3 separate regions of the Homo sapiens genome follow, and all the other regions are linked to region 3. Evidence: fine-mapped expression QTL. A gene starts in region 3. Each other region holds a variant in brackets. All regions are shown on one strand. Distances are from middle to middle. Region 1 holds the start of SLC43A3 (solute carrier family 43 member 3). Region 2 overlaps SLC43A1 (solute carrier family 43 member 1). Region 3 holds the start of PRG2 (proteoglycan 2, pro eosinophil major basic protein).

What was found. PIP is the estimated chance that this variant, and not a neighbour inherited with it, causes the effect.
Region 1: its variant is fine-mapped to the expression of PRG2 in sun-exposed skin (GTEx, PIP above 0.99).
Region 2: its variant is fine-mapped to the expression of PRG2 in unexposed skin (GTEx, PIP 0.96).

The regions. Positions count from the first base shown.
Region 1 is chr11:57,424,937-57,427,692 of GRCh38, forward strand. It overlaps SLC43A3 (solute carrier family 43 member 3), which reads right to left and starts at 2,185. Exons shown (of 14, transcript NM_199329.3): 1 at 2,126-2,185; 2 at 1,652-1,716; 3 at 1,053-1,416; 4 at 605-734. The coding sequence starts at 1,236. RefSeq lists enhancers at 117-909, 602-1,801, 910-1,702 and a silencer at 1,945-2,304. The variant G/A (reference allele first, on the strand shown) is at 1,509.
Region 2 is chr11:57,501,259-57,504,014 of GRCh38, forward strand. SLC43A1 (solute carrier family 43 member 1) reads right to left here. Exons shown (of 15, transcript NM_003627.6): 3 at 1-71. Among named protein-coding and RNA genes, the nearest start is that of SLC43A1, 13 kb to the right of the region's middle. RefSeq lists an enhancer at 1-353. The variant TC/T (reference allele first, on the strand shown) is at 1,498.
Region 3 is chr11:57,389,245-57,392,000 of GRCh38, forward strand. PRG2 (proteoglycan 2, pro eosinophil major basic protein) reads right to left here and starts at 1,406. Exons shown (of 6, transcript NM_002728.6): 1 at 1,352-1,406; 2 at 643-712; 3 at 1-73. The coding sequence starts at 700.

The DNA.
Region 1 (2,756 bases), 36 kb after region 3:
CACTGTGTGTGAGATCACGTCCCGAACCTTCTGACTCATCTGCACAGGAAACCCCCCCAGTCTCCCCTCCAGTCAGAAGGGACCTGAAATTCCACCAGTGGCAATACCAAAGAAACTTCCTATTAGCTAAGCCCCTAGGGAGTGATTGGCTGTTGGGGCGGGGAGGGGGGGCGGTGAGGAGGATGAGGATGAAGCCTGGGCAACCTGGATGTGAGGCTGTGCAGGGGATGAGGACAAGGATCCTTGGGGTGAAGGAAGAGAAGAGCAATTTTAGGTTTTGCTAATTTTGTAACCCTGGCTCCAAGCCAGCCCTTACAGGAAGTCACCCTGGCCTCCGGCTCAATTCAGCACGTGATAGGGAAGCCACATTTATGCAGAGCAGGGAACGAGGTAAGGAAATGGAAGTGGGGCTGTGGTGAAGTGGGCAAGTCTAGAGAGAGTCCCGCTGCCTGGGGCTGTTCCTAACAGCTGCTGGGAGCGAGCTGCAGGTGTGGTGCCTGGCAGGGTGGCCGGGCTGTCTGACTCTGGATTTCACTCCAAGCTAGGCTGCTGCCTGAAGGATTCCTCTTACCCACCTTTGCCTGGGCTGGCCTTTGGGACTTACATGGCTATGAGGCGTGCCACGGTGGTCTTGAACCGGTCAAAGATGTAGCCAGTGGGGAATGTCATGAAGTTGTTCATGAAGGACCCCAGGGTGAAGATGAGTGAGAACCTCTCATCCTGGGCTTTGCAGTCTGGAGTAGAAAAAAGGTCTCCCATGCATCCCAGCCTTCCTGCCAAATGAGCACACAGGCTGGGCTCCCCTCCACCTCAGACAGCTTGTCGGTCGCAAACTTGTCCCTTAAGCTGAGTTGAAATGTGGCTGCCCCTAATTACCCCTCAGGAGCTGGTGCCTCCCTCCCAGGCACTTCCCAGATCAAGTGGGGTGAGAGCTGCTGACCCTTCCTCTCATCATAGAAAGAGGGGTGGGCAGGGGGCAGAGTCCTTCCTGCTCCTTGCCACCACGTGGGAGCCAGACTTAACTTCCTTAGAAAAGTCATCCCTGCCCTTACCAGCCTGCCCTGTGGCATTGCCAATCGGCCCAGCATCTGGTCCACACAGATCCTTAAAGTAATCTTCATTCTTGAAGACAAACACTAGTGAAGGCCAGCCAAAGAGGACGCCAGCAAAGCCCAGGCATTCCAGCAGCCCAGTCAGCAGTGTGGCCACGTGCAGGGGCAGGCCCTGGCCCGCCATGAGCAGAAGTGGAGTGGATCTTCAAATCCCACTTTGTCCTCCTGGACGGATCACAGGCGCCGTAAGCCTGGCGTTTGAGCACTTGGAAAATTCCTCTGGCAAGCCAAGCCCTTCCTTTCCCGTAGCTCTCTGGTTGTTTCAGGCCTGGGCAAAAACCATCAGCGGGTGATTCTCTGGATCCTGTAGAATAAAGATAGAGGCTGCTGGAAGAGGAGGCCTGCGGGAAAGGGAAAGGTAGACTAGAGTTATTTGTGAGGTGCATTAAGAGGCAG[G/A]ATGATCATGGCCGCTGGCAGCAAATGTGGGGAATAAATACTCCAATACATCATCTTAGGCACTGCATTTGAGTAACCACGTGGCAAGTAGAGAGGCAGGTCTTGATGGCCACCTGGAGTCACAGGTGAGATAAACGACTTACCCAATAGCTCCCCGGGAGCAGGTGGAGAAGCGGAGCTCCTGCGCTCGAATTCTGAATACCGTCCCCTAAAATAATGACAGCAACTCAACCAGGTGCAGAGGCAGGGAGATTTCATACAGAAGACACAAACTCCCGCTGCCAAGTTGGTGTTATCTTCAGTTTACTGACAATGAAACAAAAGCTCCCATGGATTTCAGGAACTTGCCCAAGGTCACAGGGCTAGTTTAGTCACGACGCAGGCCATTCTACTGCCAGAAATACCCCCAACTCCCATGACCCTCGCCTAGGACTCGCAAACCTGGTCCCCGCCGCCCTTCCTCGCATCAACTTCTACCAGGAAAGCCTCCGGGGGCCGCTCCCCGCCAGCCTCCGCACCCCGCTCCAGCCTGCGGCCTGCCCTCCCCGCAGAGGAGCCCGAGGGGCCAGGCCGCGCTCGGCGCCCCATGGCGCCCGAAAGGGGACCCTTCGCCCTACCCGCCTGCTCCGCGCCGGGGCTCTCCGCGCCCTTTCCGCACGGGCCAGGTTCGCATTCGCGCCTCTCGCAGCCCCTCCCAGTCCCCTGCTCGCCTCCGCCCCCTCCTGCCCGCCCGGAAGGGGCTGGGGCAGACCTCCCACTCTCCATCACTTCCTTCTTCTTTTCCCTTGCTCACAGCCTCCCGCGCCCTTTTTACCTCTCCCTCTTGAAACTTCTCCCTCTAGAACCCCCTAGAACCCCAGCGGTGTCTTTCCCTCCCTCCTCGCTGCCTTTCAGCCTCCCAGCCCCCTTGCCTCTGCCTCCCCTAACCAAGTTAGTTGAATGCTGTTACTCGCTCAGGCCCACCTAGGGAAAATGTCACACCCAGCACCCAGAGGACACACAGACAGCACATGAGGGCATAGGGACACACACACTCTATTTGTGCATTTTGCCTTGACCGCTGGGTTGGCAGGGAACATATTTTTCCTATTTGCTCACCAGCTTAACCGTCTCTCCCAGTTTCACACTCCCAGAGCTGCCAAAAAAATCCCAACCACAGAATCAGGAAGCCAAGAACCAGGACTGAGGGCTTTTCAGAAACCATCCCCTGGAGGACTGCCCCATATTTTCACTCCCAAAAACCCCTTA
Region 2 (2,756 bases), 110 kb after region 3:
CATCTCGTCCTGCTGGTCACAGCCTGGCCACCTGCGCTGCTCATCCTGGGTGGTGTTGGTGCTGCTCTCAGCTGAGGAGGGGGAAGGGAGGGCTCAGCACATGACACCAGGAACAGCTGGGCACAGGAGACAGCAGCCCACAGTCAGGCGGCCTGCTTTCAAATCCCATGCCAAGTGCCTTTGGGGGTACCCTAGAGTCACATCTCCTCTGATGGGGCTGCTCCAGAAATGGCAGCCATTAGTACCTGACCCTGGGAGAGTCTTGTGCACACACAGCCTGAGGCTTCAACTAGCTCAAATGAAATACTGGACATAAAAGTATTTACTAAGTTGTAATATGCACTCAGTGTCCAAGCTTAGGGGGTTGTGGACCCCCAACAAGAAGTGCCCCCATATCTAGAGGCAAAGGCAAAGGCAGTGAGTGGTACTCTAATGGCTATAACAAGAATTCATTAAAATGGCCCGGCGTGGTAGTTCATGCCTGTAATCCCACCACTGTGGGAGGCTGAGACAGGCAGATCGCTTAAGCCTACAAGTTTGAGACCAGCCTGGGCAACATGGTAAAACCCCATCTCTAAATAAAAAAAAGAAATTTAGAAAGAACACTAAAACTTAGAGGAAGCTTTCCCGATAAATGATAGTCTGATAAAATAATAGCTAATACTTATTGAGCACTTAACTATGCTCCAGGCACTGTTCTAAACACAACAGCCCCATAAGTCAGTTAATAAAGTATCCCGTTCCCTAGGTGATGAAGCTGAGGCACAGAATGAGAACCAGGCACTGCCCTCCAGTCCCCTCTAGAAGTCCACTTGGAGGACTTGTCCTTAACGGTAAACTGCCAACTTGGAGTTGTGACAAGTTAAGGAGAAAAGCTAGTGATAGGAGACAAAGGGCTGCTTCGCTTTACTCAATGCTCAGTGAGTCATGAGGTGGCTGCCCCCAGGCCTCCAAGTTGTCACTTGGCAGCACTGCCAAGGGCAAACTCAGGGTGCACCTGGAGCAGGCAGACAGACCAGGGTCTGAATTCCCACCACCAGCCTTACTAGCTGTGCACCTTGACCAAGTAACTTTCTTCTTGTCTGTAAACCGGACCAAAGAATGCCTAACCCACGACCTCCTTAGGAGGATTAAATTGGAGACAGTAAACAAAGAGCTTTGCACAGTGCCTGGCCCAGAGAAAGTGCTCCTGAAGGATCTGAGGAAGGGGTAGCTGACCCTCCTGGTGGGTCATGTGGTAAGCACGTACTCTAGGAGCTGGGCATCCACACTACATGAGACAGGAAGTTCTCAGCTCTAGAGTGACAGGTGCTGCTAAAAGAACAAACCAGGCCAGGTGCAGTAGCTCACACCTGTAATCTCAGGACTTTGGGAGGCCAAGGTGGGTGCATCTCTTGAGCCCAGGAGTTCAAGACCAGCCTGAGCAACATTGGGAAACCTTGTCTTTACAAAACAAATTTTAAAAATCAGCCGAGCATGGCGATGCATGTCTGTAGT[TC/T]CAGCTACCTGGGAGTCTGAGGTGGGAGGATTGCTTGAGCCCGGGCGGTCGAGGCTGCAGTGAGCCATGATCACACCATTGCACTCCAGTCTGGGTGACAGAGCAAGGCCCTGTCTCAAAAAAAAAAAAAAAGAAAAGAAAAGAAAAGAAAAAGGAAACAAAAAAACCAACAAGGGGACAAGGGGATGTGATAATGCCTGGATACTAGGGGGTGGTAGAGGACATCTGCCCTCAGTAGTGAAAATGACCCCTGACTTTACATATCCAAAGGTCATGCAGTTGGCAGAAGAGTAAAGATAAAGGAATCTGTGTGTTGACATAAGGAAGAACACAAAGGCCTGGCAGATCCTGAGTGTTGACCAGCCATGGAAGGAACTGTCCTGGACAACAGAGAGTCTTCTTCAGTACCAGCTGCCAAGGAGGTGGGGAAAGTGCTCAGACACCTCCAGGAAGCACTTAGGGGTTGGACCACACAGCCTTTGGGGATCAGGCTAGCCCTATAATTTAGTGATCTTTATGATCACTGTCATTTCTCTACAGGTTTTTTTTTTTTTTTTTTTTGAGACAGGGTCTCACTCTGTCTCCCAGGCTGGAGTGCAGTGGTGCAATTATAGCTCACTGCACCTTTGACTTCCCAGCTCACTGTAGCCTTGACCTCCCGAGTTCAAGTGATACCCCCACCTCAGCCTCCTGAGTAGGTGTGTCTACAGGTGCATGCCACCACACCTGGCTACTTTTTGTATTTTTTGTAGAGATGAGGTTTCAACTGTTGCCCAGGCTGGTCTCGAACTCCTGGGCCCAAGTGATCTGCCTGCCTGGGCCTCCCAAAGTGCTGAGATTACAGACATGAGCAACTGTGCCCGGCCTCTCTACAGGTTTATCTGCATTGGTTTATTCATTCTACACCCACTTACTGGATATTTACTATACAACAGCACTGTGCTGGGACAATGCGTAAAGCAAGAAGAAATACAAAGATGATTTTAGACCAGAGGCTGCACACCGGTGACCAGCAGTTGCCCCCACCCATGTTTTGCTCTGCTGGCAATGTTGACCCTTATAGTGTTGTAAATTATAATTGGGTGCCAGTTTAAAATCAGGAGTTATCACATAAAAATCCAGATGTCTTGCTTCTCTTTAAAAAGTTAGAAGATCGGCCAGGTGCGGTGGCTCAAGCCTGTAATCCCAGCACTTTGGGAGGCCAAGGAGGGTAAATCACAAAGTCAGGAGATCGAGACCATCCTGGCTAACACGGTGA
Region 3 (2,756 bases):
TGCTCTGGTGTCTCCTCATCCTCAGGCAGCGTCTTAGCACCCAAAGGGGTCTCAAAGGTGGAAGTCTCAGACCCTGGCAGGGAGGATAGCTAAGTGTCCTTCCTTCACATCTCCCCTTGTTCCTCCCCAGAACCACAGACAGCTCACACCTTGCCCTGGGCATCAGAGTGCTCAACTCTGCCTGGGAAGGGGAACCTGGAACCCAGTCTCTATGAGGGGAACCCAAGCTGCCTGACAAGGTCAAGGTGGTTAAGAGCATGGACTTAGAGTCGGGCAGTCATGGGCTTGGGTACTGGTTCCATCATCCACCAGCTGTATTTCTGTGAAATGGGTATACAATACCACCTACTTCATGGCGATGCTAAGAGAGTTAAAGGAGAGAAGGCACTCAGTAAGCTCAAAGTAAGCATAATGGAGAAAGGACAAAATTGGGAATGTCACAGTAGAACCAAGACCACAGACATAACAGACGCCTTGAGAAATCCTTTCAACTCCTGGCCATAGAGTCCCCATCCCTTTAAGCACACAGAAATTCAGAAATAGAAGACGATCAAAGAAGGGGGTGGGTGTGTAACTCTGACCCCATCTACCATAGAAAGGGAAAAAACAGAGAAAGAAAGACTGAAGGCAAAAAACACTTACTTAGATGAAGAGCAGAAACTGCCCCAAATAGAAGAGCCAGAAGTAAGGGGAGTTTCATCTTGGCTTTATCCTGCAACGGAGAACACAGTTTGTCATTGACACACACAGACACACATGCACACACATCACAATCACACCATTAGGGGACCGTGGGAGTGAGGTGGAGAAAAAGAAGGCCTGAATAGAAATCAGGATGGGCCAGAAAAGCTCATGCCAAGCCCAGCTCCTGATGCTCCAGGATCCAGGACGCAAGGACCTCTTTCTAAACAGAACGCAGCAAACCCTGAGGGGTGGCTGAGGCTGGCTTTCCTTCAGGCCCGGAAGTAAAGAAGGGACTATTACGCTTATTTGTTTGTACTTAATGGGTCCCTCAGAGTCTATGACATAAAAAAGGCGGGAGAAGCAATGATTATTGGCTTTCCTAGGAACACATAGGACTTAGAAGGTATGTCCCCTCCTCAGAGTTCAAGAAGCCACCCACACCCTCCTCCATGTCTCCACCATCTCCTTTCCCCAGCCAAGGAGCACTTTCACATCCCGCAGAAGGAATGTGCAAGGCAGAGGATGAAGGCTGCCCCTGCTGACATCCTCATAACCTGAAAGCCACAGGTAGACGCCTGCCAGCCCTCCAGAAACTGTCAGCCACAGCCAGGGACCTCCTGGGAGAATAAACTGTCACCAGCTCCACCACAGCAGAGAAAGCACTCACCCACCCAGAGACCTTCCTGGGTCTTTAGATCTTCCCAAAGCCCAGGTCCTTCTTTGCTTCCTCTCACAAAGACTTCTTATATAGAGGCCTTGGAGGAACTTCCCCCAGGGAGAGAGAGTTTGCCTCTGTCAGAGGGAGATAGCAAGGCTGATAAGGACCATTTCATCACTTCCCTGGGGAGCCCACTCATTCATTCAGTGAAGATTTCTCTCCCGATACCCACTTCAGGAACCCAGGGGCCATCTGGAACAGCTCTGGGCAATGGTTCTTATCCTGGGCTACACTTCAGAATCGCCTTGGGTGCTTTTCCAAAATACATATCTCCCCTGTTTTACTGGTGTTTTGAACTGCCACAAACATTTTGAGAACAAATCTGTCCATACCTATTAAAATAAAAAAATGCACATTTGATCAGTTTCACTCTTTTGAGACTATCCTTTAGGCATAAATGCGCCTATAAGTAATAAAACTTTTACAGAGTTATGTTATTCCTTGACTATTTGTAGAAATGAAAACAATATTGATATCCATCAATCGGACACTGAGTAAAATGTGTCCTCTCTATTCTACAGAATGTTATATGGCTATGAAAAGAAGAGCTGGACCTGTATCTATAAACCTGAAGAGATGTTTCTGTGACATGAAGTGAAAAAAGGCAAGATACTGAGGAAAGTATTTAGTATGTGAATAGTTTTACAAGGAAAAAAAAAACCCCCGCATAGGTGCTTATCTGTGAGCATCCTTATGTGACCATTGATGGAGGGAATGCTAAAAGGAATCACACCAAATAGTTGACCTTGTTGCCTCCAGAAGCAGGGGAGGAGAGGGAAGAAAGCAGGAGACAGATTGTTGTTTATCTTCTTTTTATAACTTTGCATTTCTTCAGTGGTTATGGTAAATGCGTGCTGAATCTGTAATTTTGAGGCTGCCTTATTAAAGATTTTTAAAAATATGCAGATGCCCTGCCCAGAAACTTCTGCTTGGCTAATAGGTCTAGCGTGAAGGTCAGATGTCTGCATTTTTTTAAAAGCTTCCCAGCTGACTGTGATGGAAGATGGGTCTAGGAGTCACTGTCCTGAGGATCTTCAAGTACAGGAAATGTTCACGTATGTCTAACTTCTTTCCTTCTGAATCAGACCACTCAGTTGGCCAACCTACCAGCCTTCATTATGGTAACATTTACTGAACATTTTTAAATGCCATGCATGGCAAGTGGCTGGATGCAGTGGCTCATGCCTGTGATCCCAGCACTTTGGGAGGCTGAGGTGGGTGGATCTTTTGAGGTCAGGAGGTTGAGACCAGCCTGGTCAACATTGCAAAGCCTTGTCTCTACTAAAAATACAAAAATTAGTCAGGCATAGGGGTGGCTGCCTGTAATCCCAGCTACTTGGGAGTCTGAGGCAGG